4 linked regions of the Homo sapiens genome follow. The protein of the gene in region 2 purifies or fractionates together with the protein of the main gene of each other region. This does not show direct contact. Each region holds a gene or a part of one and is shown on either strand. Other genes may lie near its edges.

The links.
Region 1: the proteins of IQCN (region 2) and TSC22D3 purify together in Homo sapiens (affinity purification with mass spectrometry; 2 studies listed by BioGRID and IntAct, with this or other methods). This does not show direct contact.
Region 3: the proteins of IQCN (region 2) and MEIOC purify together in Homo sapiens (affinity purification with mass spectrometry; 2 studies listed by BioGRID and IntAct, with this or other methods). This does not show direct contact.
Region 4: the proteins of IQCN (region 2) and PPP1R9A purify together in Homo sapiens (affinity purification with mass spectrometry; 2 studies listed by BioGRID and IntAct, with this or other methods). This does not show direct contact.

Annotation. Positions count from the first base shown.
Region 1 is NC_000023.11:107,712,716-107,716,814, reverse strand, and holds the end of TSC22D3 (TSC22 domain family protein 3), read left to right. Parts: exon of another isoform or gene 1-3; coding exon of another isoform or gene 4-125; intron 126-306; exon of another isoform or gene 307-500; intron 501-864; coding exon 865-916; intron 917-2,065; coding exon 2,066-2,296; 3' UTR 2,297-3,594; downstream 3,595-4,099. UniProt on the Homo sapiens protein: Protects T-cells from IL2 deprivation-induced apoptosis through the inhibition of FOXO3A transcriptional activity that leads to the down-regulation of the pro-apoptotic factor BCL2L11.
Region 2 is NC_000019.10:18,257,425-18,264,456, forward strand, and holds part of IQCN (IQ domain-containing protein N), read right to left. Parts: coding exon 6,939-7,032; intron 683-6,938; coding exon 1-682. UniProt on the Homo sapiens protein: Essential for spermiogenesis and fertilization. May be required for manchette assembly in elongating spermatids.
Region 3 is NC_000017.11:44,651,884-44,659,491, reverse strand, and holds the start of MEIOC (meiosis-specific coiled-coil domain-containing protein MEIOC), read right to left. Parts: upstream 3,025-7,608; 5' UTR 2,879-3,024; coding exon 2,810-2,878; intron 2,366-2,809; coding exon 2,231-2,365; intron 1-2,230. UniProt on the Homo sapiens protein: Is required for meiosis completion in both male and female germ cells. Confers stability to numerous meiotic mRNAs in gonads allowing proper initiation and progression into meiosis prophase I.
Region 4 is NC_000007.14:95,288,583-95,295,614, forward strand, and holds part of PPP1R9A (neurabin-1), read left to right. Parts: coding exon 1-136; intron 137-1,508; coding exon 1,509-1,721; 3' UTR 1,722-7,032. UniProt on the Homo sapiens protein: Binds to actin filaments (F-actin) and shows cross-linking activity. Binds along the sides of the F-actin. May be involved in neurite formation. Inhibits protein phosphatase 1-alpha activity.

The sequences.
Region 1 (4,099 bases), on a different chromosome or scaffold from region 2:
GCCATGAACACCGAAATGTATCAGACCCCCATGGAGGTGGCGGTCTACCAGCTGCACAATTTCTCCATCTCCTTCTTCTCTTCTCTGCTTGGAGGGGATGTGGTTTCCGTTAAGCTGGACAACAGGTAACCGCTGGCCCCAGCTCCGGCGCCTCCCGAGCCGGGGCGCCGGCCGGAGCTGGGCTAGGAGCCCGGTCTCTGAGCGAGCTGTGTGCCGCCGGTCCCTGTTCCCCGCGGTGCAGCATCCTGGGAAGGGGCGGGGGGGAGGGGACGCAGGAAGGGGGGGGTCACCGCCGCTCTGGGATCCGTCATCGAAGCGTCCCTGCGGCCGCTGCGCCGTGAAAACCAGCTGCTGCAGCCGCAGAGGCAGCCGGAGGCAGAGGGGCGGCGGGCAGGACCAGACAGGGCTGGGCAGGGGGCTGGCCGAGCGCCGTGCGCCGCTTGGGAGAAGGCCGGAAGCTTACCAGCCGAGAAGGAATTCCTAGCTAGCTTCAGAGCCGGGTAGGTTTGCCTGGGACCTTGTAGGCCGGCTGTGGGGGACTCCCCGGGTCGCACAGCCCCATTGTTTGCATATTGCCCGAGCAGGCCACGGTGGCCTGCGCGCCCCAGGACTCGCAAGCAGCTCCGATCGGTTGGAACTCGGGGCGGCGGCAGCAGCGCTGAGCCGGCCTGGATGAGGAGATGCAGCTTCCTGCAGGGGCCAAGGAAGGATCTGGGGACAAACTGTCCGGAACTCTGGGCCAGGGAGGCGAGAAGGAGAGAGAGAGGAAGAGCCGAGGCAGATGGAGGACTTTGGCCACAACTGCCATGTACTCAAGAGTAGAACCGAGTGGGTAATGGGTCGCTTTGCTTTTTGTCTTGGCAGTGCCTCCGGAGCCAGCGTGGTGGCCATAGACAACAAGATCGAACAGGCCATGGTGAGTGGCATCACTGCGTCATTCTCATCCCCTGACTTAGCTGCTGCTTATGTAACTCTGGGCAGGATTGAGGGAATGGGTGAAAAAGCCCTTAGCCAAAACCCTGAGGAAGCCGACAGCCTGCCTCCTATCCGCACTGGAGGTGGAGTCTGATTAGAGTGGCACCTTTTAGGGCATTTCCAGTCTTCCCTTCCTGGGCTCCCTCCTTTCTTCCTCCCTCCTCCATCTCAGGTCTTTGCCGCAGGCTCTGACTCTCTCCTGGGCCTGTTGTTGGGCAGGGAGCTCAGACTCTTGCATTTGTGTGCATCGTGCAGCTGGCAAGGGGCTGAGCTCATTGGATGCAACAGCACTGCAGTGCCTCTGCAGAGCCTGGACTGGGGTCAGGAGTTGGGTGGAAACAGGAAGCGAAGCACCCCACCCCTGTCCCTCTCCTTACCAGGTAGAGGTCATACTCCAAGGAGCAGCCACAATGGCTGCAGAGGGTTAGGGCTTCAGCGGTTGGGAGCCACTTAATTGTGCCCTGGAGCTTAAGGACACCTTCCCTGCCCCCAGTGCAGTCATCAAATTCAGAGAGGATGCGGCAGTTCTGTACCTTTCCCCAAGGCCAATGTCCTGTGTGCTAACTGGCCGGCTGCAGGACAGCTGCAATTCAATGTGCTGGGTCATATGGAGGGGAGGAGACTCTAAAATAGCCAATTTTATTCTCTTGGTTAAGATTTGTACAGCAGACAAACAGTATGGGATGCATTGCAGGTCTACCCTTCCCCCAGATCTGGATCGGCAGCAGTAGGGGCTTATGTAAAAAGGGGGACATAGCAAACCACTGGCAAACAGCAGAAGTGTCACCCCAAAGGCCCCTCAGCAGCCAGCTTTGAAAGTCATTAGAAACTTGCAGGGGAGAACCTATCTAGTTCAAAGCTGGGCTCTCAACTCCAGCATAAGCCAAATCATGTAGCTCTCCTGAATGAGGGTTTAAGTGCTTCAGAGAAAGGTGAACGAGGAATTGGACTTGCCAGACCAGTTCACTGAGGGAAGGCTGGAGGGCCCTGGCATTAAGGACAGCACAGGCACACCAATGACAGAGCAAAGGTGCTGCAGAGGGGCCACGATGGCTAAGGAATGGCTTTGTTATGATTCCCTCATTGGCAGGATCTGGTGAAGAATCATCTGATGTATGCTGTGAGAGAGGAGGTGGAGATCCTGAAGGAGCAGATCCGAGAGCTGGTGGAGAAGAACTCCCAGCTAGAGCGTGAGAACACCCTGTTGAAGACCCTGGCAAGCCCAGAGCAGCTGGAGAAGTTCCAGTCCTGTCTGAGCCCTGAAGAGCCAGCTCCCGAATCCCCACAAGTGCCCGAGGCCCCTGGTGGTTCTGCGGTGTAAGTGGCTCTGTCCTCAGGGTGGGCAGAGCCACTAAACTTGTTTTACCTAGTTCTTTCCAGTTTGTTTTTGGCTCCCCAAGCATCATCTCACGAGGAGAACTTTACACCTAGCACAGCTGGTGCCAAGAGATGTCCTAAGGACATGGCCACCTGGGTCCACTCCAGCGACAGACCCCTGACAAGAGCAGGTCTCTGGAGGCTGAGTTGCATGGGGCCTAGTAACACCAAGCCAGTGAGCCTCTAATGCTACTGCGCCCTGGGGGCTCCCAGGGCCTGGGCAACTTAGCTGCAACTGGCAAAGGAGAAGGGTAGTTTGAGGTGTGACACCAGTTTGCTCCAGAAAGTTTAAGGGGTCTGTTTCTCATCTCCATGGACATCTTCAACAGCTTCACCTGACAACGACTGTTCCTATGAAGAAGCCACTTGTGTTTTAAGCAGAGGCAACCTCTCTCTTCTCCTCTGTTTCGTGAAGGCAGGGGACACAGATGGGAGAGATTGAGCCAAGTCAGCCTTCTGTTGGTTAATATGGTATAATGCATGGCTTTGTGCACAGCCCAGTGTGGGATTACAGCTTTGGGATGACCGCTTACAAAGTTCTGTTTGGTTAGTATTGGCATAGTTTTTCTATATAGCCATAAATGCGTATATATACCCATAGGGCTAGATCTGTATCTTAGTGTAGCGATGTATACATATACACATCCACCTACATGTTGAAGGGCCTAACCAGCCTTGGGAGTATTGACTGGTCCCTTACCTCTTATGGCTAAGTCTTTGACTGTGTTCATTTACCAAGTTGACCCAGTTTGTCTTTTAGGTTAAGTAAGACTCGAGAGTAAAGGCAAGGAGGGGGGCCAGCCTCTGAATGCGGCCACGGATGCCTTGCTGCTGCAACCCTTTCCCCAGCTGTCCACTGAAACGTGAAGTCCTGTTTTGAATGCCAAACCCACCATTCACTGGTGCTGACTACATAGAATGGGGTTGAGAGAAGATCAGTTTGGGCTTCACAGTGTCATTTGAAAACGTTTTTTGTTTTGTTTTGTAATTATTGTGGAAAACTTTCAAGTGAACAGAAGGATGGTGTCCTACTGTGGATGAGGGATGAACAAGGGGATGGCTTTGATCCAATGGAGCCTGGGAGGTGTGCCCAGAAAGCTTGTCTGTAGCGGGTTTTGTGAGAGTGAACACTTTCCACTTTTTGACACCTTATCCTGATGTATGGTTCCAGGATTTGGATTTTGATTTTCCAAATGTAGCTTGAAATTTCAATAAACTTTGCTCTGTTTTTCTAAAAATAAACTTGGTGTCTGACTGAGTATAAATGGACTGGGTGGGAGAGGCCCCTCACCCAGTAGGGGCTGTTTTGCTGACCCCCTGAATATCCCTTGAGCACCCTGTCAGTGCCAGGCCTATGCTGCAGCCGTGATCTCGTGTCATCTGCACAATACTCATATGAAGGACATGCTGTTTGCCCTCACTGTCTGGATAAAGAAACTGAGACTCAGCGAGTTTAAGTGACTTGCCCAAAGTCACATGGCTATTACGGGAATTAGGACTCAAGCCCAGATCCTTCCTCCCTCTCCTGCTCCGCTTTCATATGAGAGCTTCGGAGTGAGTGGCAAGGTGACTCATAACACACAACTGTAGCTTGAGGGGGTGATTTGGGAGGAAAGATACCCCGAGGAAGGCCCAAAAGAAACAGGCAGGGTATACATAGGAGGGAGCGAGAAGAGCGGAACCAAATCAACAGGCGTGGGCCTCTTCTGTCTTCTGAAAACATCACTGGGCTCACTTAATGCATTCT
Region 2 (7,032 bases):
AGGCGGAGGCCCAAGACACTGCCCCGGGGCCCTCAGTGCCCTGGCCCATGCCCTGCACCACACGGGTGGGCTGTGTGCGTCCACAGGTATGACAGGTGCGAGGGCTGGAGCCCACTAGCATCACCACGCTGGGCGGGCTCCCGATCCTGGAGCTCAGGGAGTGGCAGACGCTGCAAGCGTGTGCCTGGCAGGACTGGAAGCAGCGATGGTCAGATACTGTCCTGGCTCTGCCATCCTGGAACCAGCTTCGGTCAGACATGACCCCGGCCCGGCTGCCCAGCTCCACCCACGTGACGGGGTGGAGCATCTGCCAGTGCCGGGCTTGGTCCCGGCGGGTGCTGTAGCCGCGCCAGGCAGACTGGATGGTCGTGGTGGCTCTGCAGAGGTGTGCCAGGTTCCGCCGCACACGGTAGCCGCGCCAAGTAGCTTGGATGACCATGGCCCCCCGGTGCCACAGCCGGATCCTGCGACGCGCCAGGTAGCCACGGACGCCCGCCTGGATAGTGATCACTGCGAGGATGCGGATCTCCTCTGCAGCCTGCATGGACACCATTGGCTCCCCGGACCGCCTGGGAGGCACCACCGCCTTGTTGCGCCAGGTGTCCCAGGACGCAGCACCCCTGGCTGGCTCCCATGCGCGGTTCCACGATTGGCCACCAACCACACCAGCGTCCGCGGGGCCCTGGAGTATAGTGGAGTTCAGGGATGCCTTGTGACTAACGGCAGGATTCTGGGGGCTATAGGAGTCCTGCCGTCTCCACGGTGACTCCTGGTTAAAAAGGGGTGGCAGGGAACCACTTGGGGAAGACTCATAGCCTAGAGACACCCTCCGAACTCCCGGGGCCAGCGGAGGAATGACCGAGGAGTGTGTCATCTCCCCAGTGCGGATGACGGGCCTTACCTCTGCAGAGGGCCTGTGGGTGGGGTTTGCACCACTTCGGGCTGAGGCCTGGGATGGTTGTCTTTGCACATACTGTAAGGGCCTAACCCTGGCCACAGAACTTTCTAGCAGTTCTGGAACAATCCTACCATGCACGGATCTGTAGGAATTTTTAGGGCCCATGGCGTCCCAGCGGCTGCTCGGAGCCATGTTTCCAGACACTGTTTTCTGGAGTGGATTGGGGACAGCTTCTGTCTGGAAGGGACTGGACAATGCCCTTCTAGCCGAGGACGGATATAGTGGCACATGTGAGACCATGCTGGTGGTCCCTGACCTCTGAAGAAGACTAGGATTCCCCATCCTGCCCACAGACACTGAAAGCAATCTGAAAGCCTCAGTACTGCCACGGGCCAGCTGGGGTGATCCTGAGACTACATTAGAAGCCACTGTACCCTGAGAGTGATTTGGGGGTATGACGTGAGTGACAGACCCCTGTTGATAAACTGAGGGGGACTTAGTGGCTAAACCCGGGGCCTGGAAAGGGACAGGGACCATGCCACTAGCATGGCTGGGAGCCACCTCCCTTGGGGAAGAGACCCTTTCTCAGACAGGGACCTATGATCATGGCCCCCATCAGCTCCCAGAGGACTGGAGTACATCCACTGGGTTGCACCAGTGACCCTGGCTTTGCTGAATAGGTCATTGGATCCACTTGATCCTGACACTTGGAACACAGCCTCATCCAATTCTCCTAGCTTGGCTTGGTCCCCTGTGACCCCAGATGGCATTATCCTAGCATCTTGGCTCAATTGTAAGGCTCTTGATAGAACCGTGGGCACTCGGTGTAGACTCCTCACTGTGCCACTAGCTGCCGGGGCTGAGGAGTGACCTGGAGCCAGACTGGTGGTGTGGGGCATCTGCAAGGGGGCTAAAGACCTCTCCCCAGCCAGGCTTTGAGGTAAGGAGGGGCAGTGATGTCAATCACCATGGGCCCCTTGGAGCAGCTCTGAGCCACACTAGAGGCCCCCATCATTGGCACAGAACCAGGGGGACAACTGGGCTCACCCGACTCACTACTGAACCTGGGAGCAAGTTTGGAGCAGCTAAGCTAGCGGAGGGTCTTACAGATAGACTTGGCTTCTTTCTGTCTGCCATCAGACTGGGAGCCACCCAACTGGACACAGAGCCTGCGGGAAGGCTGTGACCCATGCCTCGGATGGTGGAGCCCGGGGGAAGGCTGGAGGTTATGCCACCAGGCAGAGTGCCTGGGACTGCGCCCGTGCTCATTCTACTGGCTACAAAACCTCCTGCCGCACCACGACCAGCCCTGCTCTTCAGAGAGTCCTGCGGAATCACATCTCTCTGCTGGTAACTGGGTGGGACCATGGATGCCTCAGAAGGGTGCCAGCAGTCTATGTTTTTTGGAATAACCACACTGATCTGGGAGCTGCTGGGGTCCATGCTGTTCAGGGAAAGATTAGACTGAGTCACGGCCAGTCTGTTGGGCACTGAAGCCAGAGAGGGGCTGGGGGCCATCCCTGTGGTTCCAGAGGGATGTGTCAAAGGGCCACCTGCCTCTAAGACCTGGGATGCAAGGGAAGCCATGCCATTGGCCACCTGACATTGACTTTGGCCCATGCCAGTTGCTATGGTTCTCCAGGGGAGATTCCCAGCTAGGCCAGGAGATGTGGTCCCCTGAGACCCACTGGGGAACATAGCATCAGCCAAAGGCTCCTGGGGATGGCTTACAGCCACACCCCTGAACAGAGGCGTGATTCACTGGCCTACACAACAGGCCTCCTCATCAGCATGAGAGAGATTTGGTGTTGAAACACTAACCACAGAGGGTGGACACACATGCCTCCCACCAACCCTGGGTGGATGATGGAACCCAAGGGACACGTCGTTGAACTTGAAGTCCGGGGGGCTGGATACCATCTCACTAACCATCAGAGGTTCTTCACATAGGTTCACCCCAGTACCCAGGGATGGCTGGTTCAGACCCTGGTCCATATTTCCAGCCACAGAGGGATATGGTCCACCCAGGCTAACTGAAACAAACGCTGATGGGTGACACAGACACGGGGCTACTGAGTCCACCCTTGAACACTGCAGATTTGAATCCAGCCTAGAGCCCCAGCATGGCTCATTGAGGCCATGACATGTACCACTGACCACAGATGGCTGGGATCGGCTTGGGGCCAACCTAGTGTCCGGGGGTGACTGAGCCAGGCTTAGGGCTTCCGTGTGGGCCACAGATGGTGGGAATAGGCTGGGGGCTATAGCTGGCTCGGCTAGGCTGGAGGCTAGGGTACAGGATGAATTTGTCTTGCCTGGACTGGAGGCCACAGATGGTTGGGCTTGCCTTGGGGATACTGCAGTGGTCTGAGATGGGTGGGCTAGGCTGGAGCCCGCCCCACTGGCCACATATGGGTGAGCTAGACTTGGAGACAACCCATGGGGTCCTGATGGGTGGGCTAGGCTTGGGGACACACCAATGGCTTGAGATGGCTGGGCTGGGCTTAAGGACACCACACAGGTCATAGGTTGGTGGGCTAGCCTTGAAGACATCCCTGTGGCTTGAGACGGCTGGGCTAGGCTTGGGGATACACCACAGGCCATAGGTTGATGAGCTGGTCTTAAGGGCACTGCAGTGGTGGCCTGAGATAGCTGGGCAAGGCTTGGGGACACCTCACTGGGCATAGATCGATGAACCTGGCTTGGGGACACCATACAGGTCATAGATGCATGAGCTCTGCTAGGGGACATCCTGCTGGTTATAGATGCGTGAGCTTGGTTTGGGGACACCCTGGAGGCCACTGGTGGGTAATCTTGTCTAGGGGACATCCCACTGGCTTGAGATGGCTGGGCTAGGCTTGAGGAAACCCTACTGGCCACAGATTGGTGGGCTACACTTGGGGACACCCCAGTGGCCTGAGATGGCCAGGTCAAGCTTGGGGATTCCCCAGTGGACTGAGGAGGCTGGGCCAGGCTTGGAGACTCCCGAATGGCCATAGATGGGTGAGCTAGGGTTGGGGACACTCCAATGGTGTGAAATGGCATGGCTAGGCTTGGGGACACTCCAATGGTCTGAGATGGCATGGCTAGGCTTGGGGACACTCCAATAGTCTGAGATGACATGGCTAGGCTTGGGGACACTCTGATGGTCAGAGATGGCTGGGTCAGGCTTGGAGACTCCCCAGTGGGCTGAGATGGGTAGGCTGGGCTTGGGGACATCTCAGTGGGCTGAGATGGGTAGGCTGGGCTTGGGGACTCCCCAGTGACCACAGATGGGTCGCCTGGGCTTGGGGACACCTCAGTGGCCATAAATGGGTAGGCTGGGCTTGGGAACACCTCAGTGCGCTGATATGACTGGGCCAGGCTTGGAGACTCCCCAGTGACCACAGATGGGTAGGCTGAGCTTGGGGACACCTCAGTGGGCTGAGATGGCTGGGCAAGGCTAGGGGACTCCCCAGTGGCCACACATGGATAGTCTGGGCTTGGGGACACCTCAGTGGGCTGAAATGGGTAGCCTGGGCTTGGGGACACCTCAGTGGCCATAGATAGGTAGCCTGAGCTTGGGGACATCTCAGTAGGCTGAGATGAGTAGTCTGGGCTTGGGGACACTTCAGTGGCCACAGATAGGTAGCCTGAGCTTGGGGACACCTCAGTGAGCTGAGATGGGTAGCCTGGGCTTGGGGACACCTCAGTGGCCACAGATAGGTAGCCTGAGCTTGGGGATATCTCAGTGGGCTGATATGGGTAGGTTGGGCTTGGGGACACCTCAGTGGCCACAGATGGGTATTCTGGGCTTGGGGACATCTCAATGGCCATAGATAGGTAGCCTGGGTTTGGGGACACCTCAGTGGGCTGATATGAGTAGGCTGCACTTGGGGACACCTCAGTGAGCTGATATGGGTGGGCTGGGCTTGGAGATACCTCAGTGGGCTGAAATGGCTGTGCCAGGGTTGGGTACTCCCTAATGGCCTGAGATGGGTAGGTTGGACTTGGGGACACCTCAGTGGGCTGAAATGGCTGAGCCAGCATTGGGTACTCCCCAACAGACTGAGATGGGTAGTCTGGACTTGGAGACACCCCAAAGGCTTGAGATGGCTGGGCCAGATTTGAGGTTACCCCAGGGGCTTGAGATGGCTGGGCTAGGCTTGAGGGCTCCCCACTGTCCATAGATGGCTGGGCTAGGTTTTGGGACCCCCAGTTAGCCATTGATTGGTGACCTTGGTCTGAGGCCACTCTAAAGGTCCTTGATGGGTGTCCTCGGCTTGGGGACCTCCTAGTCACCACAGATGGCTGTGCTGGTCTTGGTGTCACTCTATTAGGCACAGAGGAGTGTGGTAGCCTTGGGGTCACCCAATTACCCATAGATGGGCAGGTTAGCCTTGGGGATACCTTACTGGATGCTATATGCTGGGATAGGCTTGGGGCCAGCCTACTGAACCCTGATGCCTGGCCTAGGTTTGGGGCTACCCTACTGGCCAGTGTAGCCTGGGACACAATTGGGGCCAAGCTCTTGGCCACAGATGGTGGCTTATATGCAGTGGAGACCACAGTACCTAAAGACAGAGTCCTCCTCAGCTCTGTCTTGACGGTTGCCTGGGACACCTCAATCAGATTCACAGAGCTCTTGCCTAAGGAGAACTTGTGGATCTCAGCCTCTGAGCCCCAGTGAACACGCAAGGTCAAGCAGTTAGACACTGAGCTGTGTTGGAAACTGGGCACTTTCTCCGAGGCTGGAGTGGGCCGGTAGGGGAAGTGTAGGGTCATGTACCTATAGCCGGTTTCAGTCTCTTGCGTATCCTTAAACCTCTGGAGTGTCCCCATGGACTCCGGAGGAAAAACAGACTTCACCGCAAGGTCCCCTTCTAAACTGCTTTCCCGTGACTCATCTATCTTGTTGACGGCAGGCAGGCTGGCCACAGACATAGTGGAAAGGCTGAGGGAACTAGAACTTTGCAGAGAGCTTTCGGAATTGTTCTCCTGACTGTAGGTCACAAAGCCCTGGGAGAAGCTCCTGGCCAGGTCACCGTCTCGATCCTGTGGCAAACCACCTACTGGCTCACCGAGGATGGATGGCTGGTGGTCTGTTGCTAGCTTCTGGGGGCAGAGCAGGGCAGACACAGAACCCTGTGTTCGATTCCTCCCCTGTCCACAGACAGATGTCTTGGGACGAACTTGAGCCAATGCACTGCCGGGGGAAGCTTGAAACAGACCATGAGTCTTGGATGCCTGAGTTTTGGTCACCATGGTGACCTGCAAGGGACTTGGGGCCCCCTTGTCTATCACCTCCCTAGTACCCGGGGGGGCCTGTTTGCGATTTGGGGGCTGATACCTCCTCCCCAGGCTCTCCCTGGAAGCCCTGGATGCCTGCTGCTGGCCTCTGGCCACTAAGGGTTGGTAGAGACCACGATGTACCCCTGAGGACTGACACCAAGGCAGGCCCCCACAGGTGAGGTAAGGCTGGTGAACATGGGCAGCCCTCCCACCACCCACGCTGCAAGGAAGCCTACCCGAGGCCACCCTGCCCTCCCTGGTCGATAGATAAGAGGCCACCCTGCTGACCACATGTGGCCTGTGGCAGCTCGGGGCTGTGCCATAGATCACAGAGGGCTGGTTCATGCTTGGGCCCACACAGTTGGCAATGAGAGGCTGCCACAGACTCGGGGGTGGCTGCATGTGGGACAGCTTGAGCAAACTGGGGCCCTCCCCACTCCCCTCGGGGTTAAAATCTGATGCCAATGTGCCAGGCTCCAGGGTCGGGCATGCTTCTTCCTTTTGGAACTTGGGGCTCAAATCCAGGTTTGAGGAGAAGTCCCTGCTGGACTCCATCATCTCCCGGGACAGCATGGGATACAGGCCAGTGATCAGGGGACCCTGGTGAATGCTGGTGATGACGCTACCCATCACCGAGGCTCCCACAGTGACCACAGATAAGCAGGGTGACCCCCACAAGATGGCCCCATCAATCCCCCATCTCCTCCAAGGGCCCGGCAGGTTGGCCCATGGTGAAACAACCCCAGATCCCAACCTGGGAATCCCTGACCTTGCTGGTCTGTGGTCTCACGGGGCCCAGGGAGGGCCCCCATGCGGCCGATGGACTCCTCCTGCAGGCCACCTTCACCAGGGCCGGCGTCTTA
Region 3 (7,608 bases), on a different chromosome or scaffold from region 2:
CATCCCTTTCGTTAACAGAGGCCAGGAAATATGCAAATATTTGAGTGGGCATATTAACTGGATTAACTTTAAAATGTATCACTTATATCCTTAACATACTTAAAACAGTGAACTGAAATTAAATCCAAATAAATTTTAGTCCGGATGTAAACACTGCAGAGAGCAGTGGAACTATGGTCTGGGTTCCACTTGAGCTTTGTCATTTAGGGCACAAATCAAGCTCTCTGAGGCTCAGTTTCTCAATCTGTACAGTGGCATAATAATATACAAGATTCTTAGTGTGGATTAAATAAAATAATTTATTTCTAGATATTGTTATAATTCAAAGTACAACAATATCAACATTGATGTCCTGGTTAAATAATTTCAAATGAAAATTACTTACATTACCCAAGCTTTATTTCCTTTGATTAATAAATCTAAATGTCTTGGTGAGGTAAGTGGTAGCATATAATTTAAGACATTGTTAAAACCAGAAAATAAAGGAGTAAAGTGAAATTTTCACCTTTAAATTATCAAAAATATGTTTGTACCAACTTGCAATAAATGCCTGAACGAAAAAAAACATATTTTAATCTTACTAAATAATGGATTTTCTTACATTTCTGGAATTATGTTATGCTAAGGACAAGATGGAAACGAATCAATGAAAAATCTTATTCTTCAATTTGTTTTCTTTTTTCTTTTTTTTTTTTTTTTGAGAGGGAGTCTCACTCTGTCACCCAGGCTGGAGTGCAGTGGCATGATCTTGGCTCACTGCAACCTCCACCTCCCTGGTTTAAGATTCTCCTGCCTCAGTCTCCCAAGTAGCTGGGATTACAGGTGCCTGCCCCCACACCCGGCTGATTTTTGTATTTTTAGTAGAGATGGGGTTTCGCCATGTTGGCCAGGCTGGTCTTGAACTCCCGAACTCAGGTGATCCACCCGCCTCAGCCCCCCAGAGTGCTGGGATTACAGGCACGAGCCATGGCGCCCGGCCCTTAACTTATTTTCAAAGCAAAGTATGTATTCTGCAAACACTGTATTTAAAAGATTGTAGCCGGGCGCGGTGGCTCACGCCTGTAATCCCAGCACTTTGGGAGGCTGAGGCGAGCGGATCACGAGGTCAGGAGATCGAGACCATACTGGCTAACACAGTGAAACCCCGTATCTACTAAAAATACAAAAAAATTAGCCGGGCGTGGTGGCGGGTGCCTGTAGTCCCAGCTACTCGGGAGGCTGAGGCAGGAGAATGGCGTGAACCTGGGAGGTGGAGCTTGCAGTGAGCGGAGATTGCGTCACTGCACTCCAGCCTGGGCGACAGAGCAAGACTCCGTCTCAAAAAAAAAAAAAAAAAATTGTTCCTGGGCTGGGCGCTGTGGCCTGAAATCCTAGCACTTTGGGAGGCCGAGGCGGGAGGATGGCTGGAGCCCAGAAGTTCGAGACCAGCCTGGGGAACATGGTGAAACCCGGTCTCTAAAAACAATACAAAAATTAGCCGGGCATGATGGCAGGTGCCTGTAATCCCAGCTACTGGGGAGGCTGAGACGGAAGAACTGCTTGAACCAGGGAGACAGAGGTTGCAGTGATCCGAGATCGCACCACTGCACTCCAGCCTGGGCAACAGAAGGAGACTCCGTCTCAAAAAACAAAACAAAACGGCTGGACGCGGTGGCTCATGCCTGTAATCCCAGCACTTTGGGAGGCCGAGGTGCGCGGATCACCCGAGGTTGGGAGTTCGAGACCAGCCTGACCAACATGGAGAAACCCTGTCTCTACTAAAAATACAAAATTAGCCAGGCGTGGTGGCGCATGCCTGTAATCCCAGCTACTCCGGAGGCTGAGGCAGGAGAATAACTTGAGCCCCGGAGGCAGAGGTTGAGGTGAGCCGAGATCGCACCACTGCACTCCAGCCTGGGCAACAAGAGCAAAACTCCATCTCAAAAACAAAAAACAAAAACAAAACAAACAAAAAAAACAGCCGGGCGTGGTGGCGCGTGCCTCAGGAAGCTGAGGCACAAGAATCGCCTGAGCCCGGCTGGCGGAGGTTGCAGTGAGCCGAGATGGCGCCACTGCACTCCAGCCTAGGAGACAGAGCAAGACTCTGTCTCAAAAAAAAAAAAAAAAAAAAAAAGTTTTCCCTGGTTTTCTCTTCCTTAACTGTGGAGCCATTAAACACCTATGAATCGGTGGCTCGAGTAAATCCATTTGAGAATAAATCGTCTAACAGAGGCAGAGTTTACTAAAGGACCTGCGATGTGTAGCAATCGTAGAAGGAAGCGGAGCCAGTCAACATCACGCTGCCGAAGACGTCGGTTAACCTGCTGCCGGCGTCGGCGCCGAGGTTCCAACAGCGATTCGCACCTCCGGGGAACGCGACTTTGGGCTGCAGCACACGGGAATAGGAAATATCAGAAAGTGGTCACGAGGGTGACGCCGGAGCTGAAACGGCCCGACACCTGTTCTACCTCGGCTGTTCGGCTCAATTCCGAACCCTCTCAGAGGACACGAATGTGGGGGCCCGCGCTTCCAGCCTCGGGATTCTCACTCTCCCCTCGGGCCCCCTGAGTGCTGACCCCGAGGGGCGCCCCTCCCCGGCCACCGCCTCAGCGCGACGGCTGCCTCCCGGGAATCGCGGCGACCCGCGCTCCGTCCGGCCCGTCCAGTCAGCCCGCGCCGCGCCCCCCGCCCGCCCGCCCCGTTCGGCCTCCCCACCGACGACCCGCCTCTGCCGCCCCGTCTAGGGACGCGCCCCCTCCTCAGCCTCTCCTCCTCGTCGCCTCTTGCAAGTCTGGCCGCCCCCTGGACCCTGCCCTTCCTCATCCATTACCTCAAGTCCTTCCTCCCTCAGGCCTGAGGGGTGAGGGCGCGGGCAGGTGTCTCCGCGTCTCACCTCCATGGGGCGCCCCCCAGCCTCTCCTGGACTAGGCACAGCTCCTGGGGTACGGGGGTGATGGGGGGGGCGTCCAGGCCCGGCTCCCTCAGCCCGCACCCCGCCGTCTCCGCAGCCGCCTCCGCCGCCCGGGCGCTGCCTGGAGCCAGTGTGCGGGTAAGGGAAGTCCGAGCGGGGAGGGAGGGGCGGGGGCAGAGGCCGTTACCTGGCCTGCCTGGGGCTCGCGGCTCGGCACGCGACACGGCACAGGCGCGCCCCGCCCCGCTGTGAGGCCCGCCCCTCCCGTTTCGCAGCCCGCCATTGGTCCGATGCCCATCCAATGGGCGACCACTCCAGGCTCCGTTACCCCCCAGAGACAAGGAGAGGAAGGGGCGGTTAGCGGACCACGCTCTCTCGCCGCTTCTGAGCTTTTCCCGCTCAAAGTAAATGTGTTCGGGATTGGCCCGGACTGGCAGGCACCGGCCCGATGATTTGCTGATAGGGCAGCGGAGAGGCCGGTCGTGGAAGGTTGAAAGAGCTAAAGAGCGCAGCCCTACCGGGTGGGAGAGGTGTTGGAGGCACTTGGAAGATTTGAGAAGTCGCTCAGCAACTGGCTTATCCTCCAAAACCTAGCTGTTGCGCACATTTCATTTGTCCGACATTTCATATTTGTTCCTTAGTCCCTCCCGTAGCTTCAGAATCCGTTGGAGCTGCCCAGAGACTGATATATCTTGTACCGGTTTGGGGAGGGCGAGGAGCAACTTGTGGATTGGGTGTTGCTGGGAGACCCCTTTTTGAGGGAGAGCTGCCCTGTGTCCTAAGCCCGGGCTTTCAGTCCGGGTTAAGGCATTTAAGTGTTAATGTGACTTTTGAACAAAGTTCGCTGTGACCTTTTTGTTCGTTTTTGTTTGTCTGTGTAAAACAGGGTCTTGCTCTGTCGCCCAGGCTGGAGTGCAGTGGCGCTATCATAGCTCGTTGCAGCCTTGAACTCCCGGGTTCAAGCGACCCTCCCGCCTCAGCCTCCCGAGTAGCTGGGGCTGCAGGCACGCGGCGCCACCACTCCTGGCTAATTTTTTAATTTTTTTGTAAAGCTGAAGGGCGGGGGGGTTGGGTCTCCTTATGTTGCCCAGGCTGGTCTCAAACTCCTGGTCTCGAGCGATCCTCCCGCCTCAGCCTCCCGAGTAGTTGGGGCTACAGGCGCGTGCCACCACTCCCAGCTAATTTTTTTTTTTTTTTTTTTTTTGGTGAGATGGAGTCTCACTGTCGCCAGGCTAGAGTGCGGTGGCGCAAAGGCTCACTGCAACCTCCGCCTCCCGGGTTCAAGCGATTCTCCCGCCTCAGCCTCCCGAGTAGCTAGGACTACAGGCCCACGCCACCACGCCCCGCTAATTTTTGTATTTTTAGTAGAGACGGGAATTTCACCATGTTGTCCAGGATGGTCTCGATCTCTTGACCTCGTGATCCGCCCGCCTCGGCCTCCCAAAATTCTGGGATTACAGGCGTGAGCCACGGCGCCTGGCCCTAGCTAATTTTTTAATTTTTTTGTAGAGCTGGGGTTGGAGGTGGGGATGGGGGTAGGGGGTTGGATCTCCTTATGTTGCTCAGGCTGGTCTTGAACTGAACTCTTGGCCTGAAGTGATCCTCCGCCTCGGCCTCCCAAAGTGTGGGATTACAGGTGAGAGCTTACATAAACAAGCCATTCCAGGCACCCAACAAACCATTCACATAGCAGTCAGATTGGGGATGTGATGGTCTCAGAGAAATGCTAGTTTTTGTCCCTAGACACTGCTAAAAAATCAGATAGTTGAAATATAAAAGAAGTAAACACAGTAAGCACCTTTAGGCTGTTTTTATATTTAAAATCAAAACTTGAGAAATGAGCACTTAAGTGGAAGATACTGTTTTAACTCAGACACGAATGGAAGTAGGAGGATGAGTTTTATTGACCCATATTGTCCTGATAGTTACTTCAGGTCTCTACTCAGCTTTGAGTTCAGAAAGCTCACCAAGGCTGGGCGCAGTGGCTTGTGCCTGTAATCCCAGCACTTTGGGAGGCCGAGGCAGGAGGATTGCTTGAGCCCAGGAGTTGCCCAGCCAGGGCAACATAAGGAGACTTCGTCTCTACAAAAAAATTAACAATTAGTTGGGTGTGGTGGTGTGTGCCTGTAGTCCCAGGTACCTGCACTTGGGAGGCTGAGATGGGAGGATCGCCTGAGCTGGAGAGTTGGAGGATGCAGTGAGCCATAATCACTCCATCACACTCCAGCCTGGGCAACAGAGCAAGACCCTGTTTCAAAAAAAAAAAAAAAAAAAAAGGAAGAAAGAAAAGAAAAAAAGCTGCTGGACTCACACCTGTAATCCCAGCATTTAGGGAAGCAAAGGCAGGAGGATAGATTGAGCCCAGGAGTTTGAGATTTGCCTGGGGAATATAGTGCTCCACAAAAAGGAAAAACAAAATGTGCATGCACACACACACACACACACACAAACACACACACACGCACACACACTTAAAAAAAGCTGACCAGGTGGTGTGGCTCTAACAGTTACATTTCTCTGCCTCAGCCTTAAAGTTGCTGGTGTAGGGCTCATTGCATTGAGGACTACTGGCTTTTTCCCCCTCTCCTATACTCCCTAGAAGCATTTTGAAAAGCTATGAATCCCCTTATGTATTTTTATAGTAAAATATACATAAGATTTGTCGTTTTTAAGTGTTTGGTTAAGTGGCATTAAGCACATTCATAATGTTGTGTAACCATGACCGCTCTACAGTTTCAGAACTTCATTAATCACAAACAGAAACTCTGCAGCATCCCATAAATAATTATTCCCCATGCCCCCTTCTCCCAGTTCTGGCAACCACCATTCTACTTTCTATCTCTATGAATTTGACTACTCTAGGTACCATATATAAGTGGAATCATACAATATTTATCCTTTTGTGCCTGGCTTATTTTACTAAGGTAAAATAAACCTTGTCATCAAGGTTCCTTCATGTTATAGCATATACCTGAATGTCATTCCTTTTTATGGCTGACTAAGGTTCCATTGTATGGATATACCACATTTTGTTCAAGCATTCATCTGTTTATGGACACATGGGTGGTTTCCACCTTTTTTTTTTTTTTTTGAGTCAGAGTCTTGCTCTGTGCTGCAGGCTGGAGTGCAGGCGCAATCTTGGCTCACTGCAACCTCCCCCTTATCGGAGGAATCGTTCAGATGATTCTCCTGCCTCAGCTTCCCCAGGAGCTGGGATTACAGGCATGTGCCACCAAACCTGGCTAATTTTTTTTTTTTTTTGAGACAGAGTCTTGCTCTGTCACCCAGGTTGGAGTGCAGTGGCATGATCTCAGCTCACTGCAACCTCTGCCTCCTGGGTTCAAGTGATTCTCCTGTCTCAGCCTCCTGAGTAGCTGGGATTACAGGCATGAATCACCATGCCTGGCTGATTTTTGTATTTTTAGTAGAGACAGGGTTTTGCCATGTTGGACAGGCTGGCCTCGAACTCCTGACCTCTGGTGATCCGCCTGCCTCAGCCTCCCACAGTGCTGGGATTACAGGTTTGAGCCACCGTGCCCCGCCTAATTTTTGTATTTTTAATAGAAATGGGATCTCACCATGTTGGCCAGGGTGTTCTCGACCTCTTGACCTCAAGTGATCTGCCTGCCTTGACCTCTCAAAGTGATTACAGGCATGAGTCACCGCGCTTGGCTCTCAACTTTTCACTATTGTGCGTAGTACTGCTAGAAACATTGGTGTACAAGTATTTGATTAATTTTTTTTCCAATTATTTTGGGTATATACCTAAGAGTGGTATTGTTGGGACATATGGTAATTGTATTCGATGTCTTGAGTAATTCCAAAATGTTTTACACTGTGGCTGCACCATTTTACATTCTCACCAACAATGCATGAGAGTTCCCATTTCTCCACATCCTCACCAACACTTGTTATTTTCTTTTTCTTTTTCTTTCTTTCTTTCTTTTTTTTTTTTTGAGACAGAGTCTCCCTCTGTCACCCAGCCTGGAGTAGAGTGGCACGATCTTGGTTCATTGTAACCTCTGCCTCCCAGGTTCAAGGGATTTTCATGCCTCAGCCTCCCGAGTAGCTGGGATTACAGGCACGCACAACCACGCCTGGCTAAATTTTTGTATTTTTAGTAGAGACAGGGTTTTTCCATGTTACCCAGGCTGGTCTCGAACTCCTGAGCTCAGGCAATCCGCCTGCCTCGGCCTCCCAAAGTGCTAGGATTACAGGCGTGAGCCACTGCACCCAGCCTATTTTTTCTTTTTAAAATTTCTCTCTCTATAGATATACATATAGATAGATATAAATAGATATAGAGAGATCTATCTCTGTATATCTATCTATATATATCTATCTCTATATATAGACAGGGAGATATATCTATAGATCTATATATATCTATATATCCCTGTATAGATCTATATATAGTAATCTATGGTAATCTGAAATTACTATATATATGTATTACTGTATGTGTGTGTATATATATATATATGTATACACACACACACAGAGATTGAGAGAGAGAGATGGGATCTTGCTCTGCTGCCCAGCGTAGACTGGTAGACCACAGTGGCATGATCATAGCTTACTGAATACTCAAACTCCTGGCTTCAAGTGATCCTCCCCACTCAGCCTCCCAAAGTGCTGGGATTACAGGCACCACACCCAGTCTCTTTTTCTTTCTTTAAAAAAAAAAAAAAATATATATATATGTATATATATACATA
Region 4 (7,032 bases), on a different chromosome or scaffold from region 2:
GGCCGTTCAGGAATGGAGTGTGCAGCAGGTTTCTCACTGGTTAATGAGCCTAAATCTGGAGCAGTATGTATCTGAATTCAGTGCCCAAAACATCACTGGAGAACAGCTCCTGCAGTTGGATGGAAATAAACTTAAGGTAAAGAATTATATGTCTGTCTTAGGTTACCAGGTATAATTTGTATTACTCATATCACCTAAAATGTTTTCATTAGGTAAGAGCATTCTGCATATCTGAGAGGTAATTCTCATCAATATTCAGCAGAAAGGATGTTGAATTCTTTCTGAGTAGTAAATGAAGTCTCAGAAAGTCCATCAGGGGTTCCAAATCAAATGGTAGGCTGCTGATTAGGAGAGTGAGGGACCCACTCCATTGCTTCCACCTGGCAACACATGGTCCATATATTAACTCTCCTTACATCTGATGTAGTATGAGTTTTAATAATGGCCACTGTGGACTTTTTCATCACATTAGAATTAAGACCCAGATCCACGAGTCTTCTTTTCCTTGTTCATTTCTCCTTCACCTCCACTCTTCCTTACACACCACTCCCAAACTGGGATGATGTTCTCCCCAGAAGTTTTTTCCCCAAATATGTACACACATCTTCCCTCCCCTCCATGGCACTTTCATTTCCACTTGTCCAGTCCATCTCTCTTAGAGACCAAGGTGGCATCCATCCCTTTGGGAAAGGGAAAAAGGTGCTTACAGCCAACTCCATGTACCCCCAAGCCCCACCCCCGCCTCAGCCCCCTGCTGGGCTGACGGGCAGACGAGTATCTCTTGACAATCTTGAAAAGGTTAGAGATCAATCAATAGCTTGTGAATATGAAGGCCTCATTGACAAGGCTGTCCCTGTTGGGGAGATAGATAGATGCATCCTGCTGTTGATTCTGAAGGTCACGAAACATTTAAAGTACATAAGCAACTCCCCTTATTCTGAATTCTAAGTTCATCGAGCAACCTCCTCATTATAATCAACTTCCTTTATAGGTCTGCCTACAGGGAAAGAATGGCTAGTCATGCTGACACGAGCATTCTGGCCCCAAAGACATTTTTGGTTCTCATTGTAATGAAAACATTGGCAGAAAGGAAGCCATTTCAATTCTTCTTGCCCTTCTTGGAGCCCTCTGTGACAGCAGGTGCTCACTCCTATGCTTTGAAAATATTGATGAGTTTAGCAATACCTTTACCCGTAAATGCCTACAGCCCAAAGGTTGGAGAAGTAGAATTGTGCCCTTTTTCCATTCATTCACCCATTAATTACTCATTTGGAAAGCATTTAATTAATGAGCTTTAGGGTATACTTTGCAAGGGACTTCAAAGAACAAAAGAAAAAATAAAGGGTAGCCCCCAGTGTGTTGGTTTTTAGCAAATGTAACTAGTTCTTCCTCTGTTCTTACCTCTTCAATGTTTGAATTAGTTTACGAACTTGGATATATGGTATGTTAACACCATCAGAGGGCTCATTGGTTTTCAAATTCAGTTTGTGTGTGTGTTTCTTTCTTAGGCTCTTGGAATGACAGCATCCCAGGACCGAGCAGTGGTCAAAAAGAAACTCAAGGAAATGAAGATGTCTCTAGAGAAGGCTCGGAAGGCCCAAGAGAAAATGGAAAAACAAAGAGAAAAGCTAAGGAGAAAGGAGCAAGAGCAAATGCAGAGGAAGTCCAAAAAGACAGAAAAGATGACGTCAACTACAGCCGAGGGTGCTGGTGAGCAGTAACACATACCCTCTTACAGATGATGGAGATGCTCCAAGAGAAGTCCCCACCTCTTCCTGCCCTGCTCTCCTCCAGAGGATGAAAAAGAAACTAAATGATAAGGGTAATGCGGCTCTAGGCCGGCTGAGGAACTGTGTGTTGAATAACTGCATTTTCTGCAATAGAATGCACTCTTAATTTTAACTACTAAAATAATCCCAAGCCACCTTTGGTTCATTAACAAACCAGAGATTTCATTTAAGTAGCTGTGTTTTGCTCTTCTCTAACTTACCAACATCTTGTGTTGTGTTGGGTGTGTTTTGTCACTTGGAGAACTAGTGTGACCCCACCCAAGAGCATGACACACCCTGGTGTTGTTAATGGAGCGCCGTGAATTTTCAGTGTGGGATCCTGAAATGGCAATTGCACATGTCTGCATGGCAGAGAGCACCCTGCCATGAGATCTGAGACCAGTACTTAACTTCTAGGACTGCAACACCTACTCCAATGTGTGGGAAAGATTTGCTCTTAATTCTCAGTCTGGACAGTGAGACCACCCCGCTGTGGAAACATGGGTGCTCTGCTCTGTAGTTACCTACTAAGGGAAAAGGCAAGCAAGTCATTCTGCTTGCTAGGCATCAAAAAGAAAGAAAATAAATTATAGCTATTTGTTAACCACTGAAAAAAGCAAAAGCCTTAAGAATGTGGATGTGGGTATTACCTTGGGGTTCTGAGGGTAATATTTATCCTCTAGATACGGCTGAACAAGAAAGAAAAAAATCAGACATTAATGCAGCCATGGGATATTGGGATCTGTTGACCTTGCTACTGCTGTGTGTTCAGCATTTCAGCAACACTGGCAAACACAACACAGTTCCTCTTCCCCCTACCTAACCCAAGAAATTGAACAGGAAATTGATTTTTAAGGAAACCACCATTTTCAGGTTTCCTCTCCTGGGGAACATTCTGGCTGGTCTTCAGCCTGCCTATGTCACAATCAGGAACTCATCACATATTTTCTACTCAAGATTTCCCAGGTGGGCTCAGTTAGTATTTTAACAAATGTACTTTTAAGAAAAATAGAAATACCAGTTAGAGGAAACTGTCAGTTAACATTTTAGAGAGATTTTGAATGGTTTTTCCGAACCATTCCTTTCCATACTTCAAAGATTCTCAATTTTACAGAAAAAGTTTGTTTAAGGCAGTGCATAGGTATACTTTAGTAGTGGAGGAACTTATACTAATTTTAAGCCAGCATTAAGGATTTCCATGTTTCACCAAACTAAGTCAAGTGCAGGAGACTGGGGCAGAAGAAGGAGAAAATAAACTCGTTTTGAGAAATTTCATGTGATGAGGGTTTTTTGTTTTTTATGCTCATGTATCTGGTTCTCTTTGCTGCGTTGACTCTAAAAATGAGGTTATCCACTTTCCAAAGGACAAGTTTCAGAATAAGACTTGAGGCCACATGAATTCTTGGACAGTATTTTACTTCTTTTACTTTATGGGAATCTCTGCTCTGTTCCCAGCATCTCGTATCTTCCACTAGAAGTATTCCATATTTAGAGCCTCGGCAAGGCTTTTGAGTGTAACAGATTAAGGGAACTCCCTTGTAGCCCCATCTTGTATTTTAATAACAGTGTGATTTTTTTTTATCTGAAAATCTGAATTCAGAAATTATCTAAACTGGACATTTTTAATTCTGTTTTACCCCCAAGGCCTGTTTTCTTTTCATTGCCAGAGTATTGTCGGTTATGCGTCAGCTCTTTTGTCATTAGGTACAGACCCTTCATTCAATCCTCAGAAACGTTGACATGAAGTAACATTGTGTTTTACAGTTATCAAAGTCACCATTATGTTTTTCTGTCTGTCTTCATTAGGGGTATGATAATGAAACTGCCGTATTGGATACTCTATTAATGTCTTGAGATGTCTGGTGCTTTGTTATTTTTTCACATCATGAGAAATAAGAAGCCACTATTAATGAGTGATACAATTTGGCAAAACTTTTCAAATACTAAAACACTAAATTAGTAAAAATCTGGTAATATTAGTGCTTGCTATTGTAAATTTTTGCCATTTTTGCTTATCTTTGGGAAAAAAGTGACCTGGATCACACTGGAAGTTTCACTGTATTCAAGAGTAGAAATAGAAGGATGATTATCTTAAGTTATGTTTACACTTTGGTAATATTTGAAAATGGATGTATATACTGGAAATGTCTGTAAGTGTCTTGTTTTTGCACCTAATTTATGATCTATTATATTGCATTTTCTTAAATATCTTAGAAGTATTTTTCTTTATAACTTTGTATATTGAATGTTTAGATAAATGTCCAACTGACAATGTTATAAATCAAATTCTTATTCCTAAAATCATTTAGTATTATAAGTATTTTGATTTTTTAAGTTAAATTATAGTAATTTTAGGCCGAAGTGAGTTATTTTAACATTACCACTTAAAACGGATGAAATTGTAAAAGTCATTTGGTTTGATTGCCCCACAAAGCATAAGATGTAAACTGATTAAGGGTATGAAAGCAAAGTGAAAGACCTCAGATCTTGTGCACATTTTGTTTTCCTATTATTTCTTTTATTGACTGTAGTGCATGATACCTAATCAAGGCTCCAATGTCTTGCACAATTCCTACTTTAATGCTAGTGGTTTTCAGTGTCCTTACAATTTAACACAGAATTGTTATTTCATCAACCTTAAAAACTGCAGTTTTTATTATCAGAAAATGAACAAAAAGGGAATATCTGGTTGCTATGAACTGATTCCCTAAAGGAGAGCTCAGTATGATTCTAACAATAGCCAAAAGTGTTTTGGGGTATAGGTTATGCTTTGTTGGGAGGGAATGTGTGGTGAGGAGGCCAAGCTGCAGACAGAAAGCATTGTATGAGCTGTATCTGGGTCAGGGTTTCCCATTAAAGGATGTTAGTTTTATAACAGATTACTTTGTTTAAGACCATCTCCCTTCAAGTAACTCACAGTTTATGTAATACTAATCTCATTCTTTTTTTACCTGAATCAGGAATTTTCTGCAGAATGTTAAGTTAGGGAAGAAACCTCATTTCATCCATTCTAACACTCCTGATGAAGTCCCCCTTTAGTTTCATGACAATAAAGCTGTTCTGTGGCTATCATCCTTTAGCTGGGATTGACAATTGATTTCACACCCTCAACATCACAAGCTTTTTTTAACCCACAGCAGTTCATGATTGCAGTATGATAGGTACTAAAGCCAAACTCAGCTTTCAACTGGCACAAAATGGGACTGTCACCTTTTGCTCCATTGTTGTTGGAAACAAAGTGGCAAGAGGGAAAATGAGGAACCAGATTTACCTTTGCCACTATCTGTGACCCTGTAATCATCACTAGCCTGAAATCTTAAAATATCCCAGTCCCAAGCTACAAAAATGGTCACAGGTGGTTTGATCTAGCACCTCGGCCGTTAGAGTTTGTGCTGAAGACAAATTTGTCTGGGTTCATTGTGCACCAGAATTAGCATGTGCTTGAAAATTGCATTTTATAAAAGGGAAATGAAAATTTGCATTTATATAGATACTCTGATTCATGTTTAAGTGTTAAAGGTTATGCAGACTAAACTTCAAGAGGAGATCCAGTGTTTAACAATAGTGTTCTAGAGGATTCTAAAGGAAGCTGCCCCAGCAGCCCTGAGAGAACCATCTATACTTTGGATATGTTGTAGCCCCATCATTACACTGAGATATTTCCATTTGAGTAACTAAAGGTACTCCTGACAGAGCTGGAGATGAGGGGCATTTTGGTGGGCAGTGGTCACTAGGGTTCACGTCACCTACTTAATGCAAAGACCTTAGTGGTCTCAGAATGAAAAGGTAAAATGGAAGAGAAAAGCACAGTCCTTTCCTGTCTTTTCAAATTTACTTTTTATTAAGGATGTACCTGTGCACTATTCTAAAGCTAAGCATTTAAGGATAAAGTCCAGAAATAAAATGTCCATATTTTCTTTTCTTTTCTTTTTTTTTTTTTTTTTCTGTCATCTGTCACCCAGACTGGACTGCAGTGGTGCCATCATGTCTTACTGCAGCCTCAAACTCCTGGGCTCAAGTGGTCCTCCTGCTTCAGCTTCCCAAGTAGCTGGGACTACAGGCATGTGCCACCACCCCCAGCCAAAACATCCATATTTTCTATTAGAATGGTTTACATTATGATGGGGGATGGGGAGCTGGGGGAGGGCTGTACATTCCCAAAAGAAAGTAGTGTTATAGGAAATCCAAATGCGCTTCAGTGATTCACTCCTGAAAAGCAGCCTGGGTATGTTGGCAGATTTTGTTTGCATTTGTCTTGCGTATTTAAAGTCTCAGGAAATCTAGTCTTGGTCCAAAACACTGGAGAAAAAAATAACACCAGACAAAACACATTTGAGTAACTTGAAGTAGCAGCATAGAATAGGCCCAACTAAGAAGTTGGAGGGGCAAAGAGAAAGCCGACAGAATCAGCTTCTCCTGGAAAGTGAAAGCATCAAGTTCTATTTATGGTAGACAGAGGGTCCTTATTTGCTTGTCCGTGGTGTCTATGTGGGCCTATTGAGGGAATGGTAGTTACTTGAAGGTTCACATATGTAAGCGTGTGGACCCAGCACAGTCTGTGACCTGATTCCAGATCCTCAAGAGTGGAGAAGGAAAGAAATATGATGATTTCCTATGCTTGACCCTAACCCAACCCCAAAACTGCTAGGGATTCAACAGTGAGTAAGATGTATGCAATAAGAGAACAGATAACTTCTCAACAATGTGCATGCCGTTTGTGTAGATGTTCAGAACTACATATGTGTGAATATCACTCCCACCTTACACACGCACACACACTGCAATCACATGGCATTAAAAAATATATTGTGTATGGAACTTGGCGAGGTCAGTCAGGACCTGGAGCTGTAATCATAGCCTTATTGCCACTTCTTGCGTTGTGTATACATTGAATGGCTCATAGATTTTAAGAGATTTTTTTATTGTAAGTATTTCTACTAAATGCACTTATCCTTCTATATGTTTATATATTTTGGTAAAATTGATTTATCAGATACTTGGTATTTTAGTAAGAAAATTTCCTCAAATATTTGGCTAATGCTTTGATGTCAAGATTGCATATTGCTGAGTTGGAGCTCAGAAGAAATGTATGCAGCTAAAAATTGCACTGTGTGTTCTTGTGAATTTGCTCACAATTCTAAAATGACATAATTGGTGGCTGTGATGCTTACAGTCACTGCCTACTGGCTCTCTTATGATGAATGTTGCCATCATATGATCATTTATTTACTTTTTGTGCAAGCAATGGCATTTTGGTTGTTGC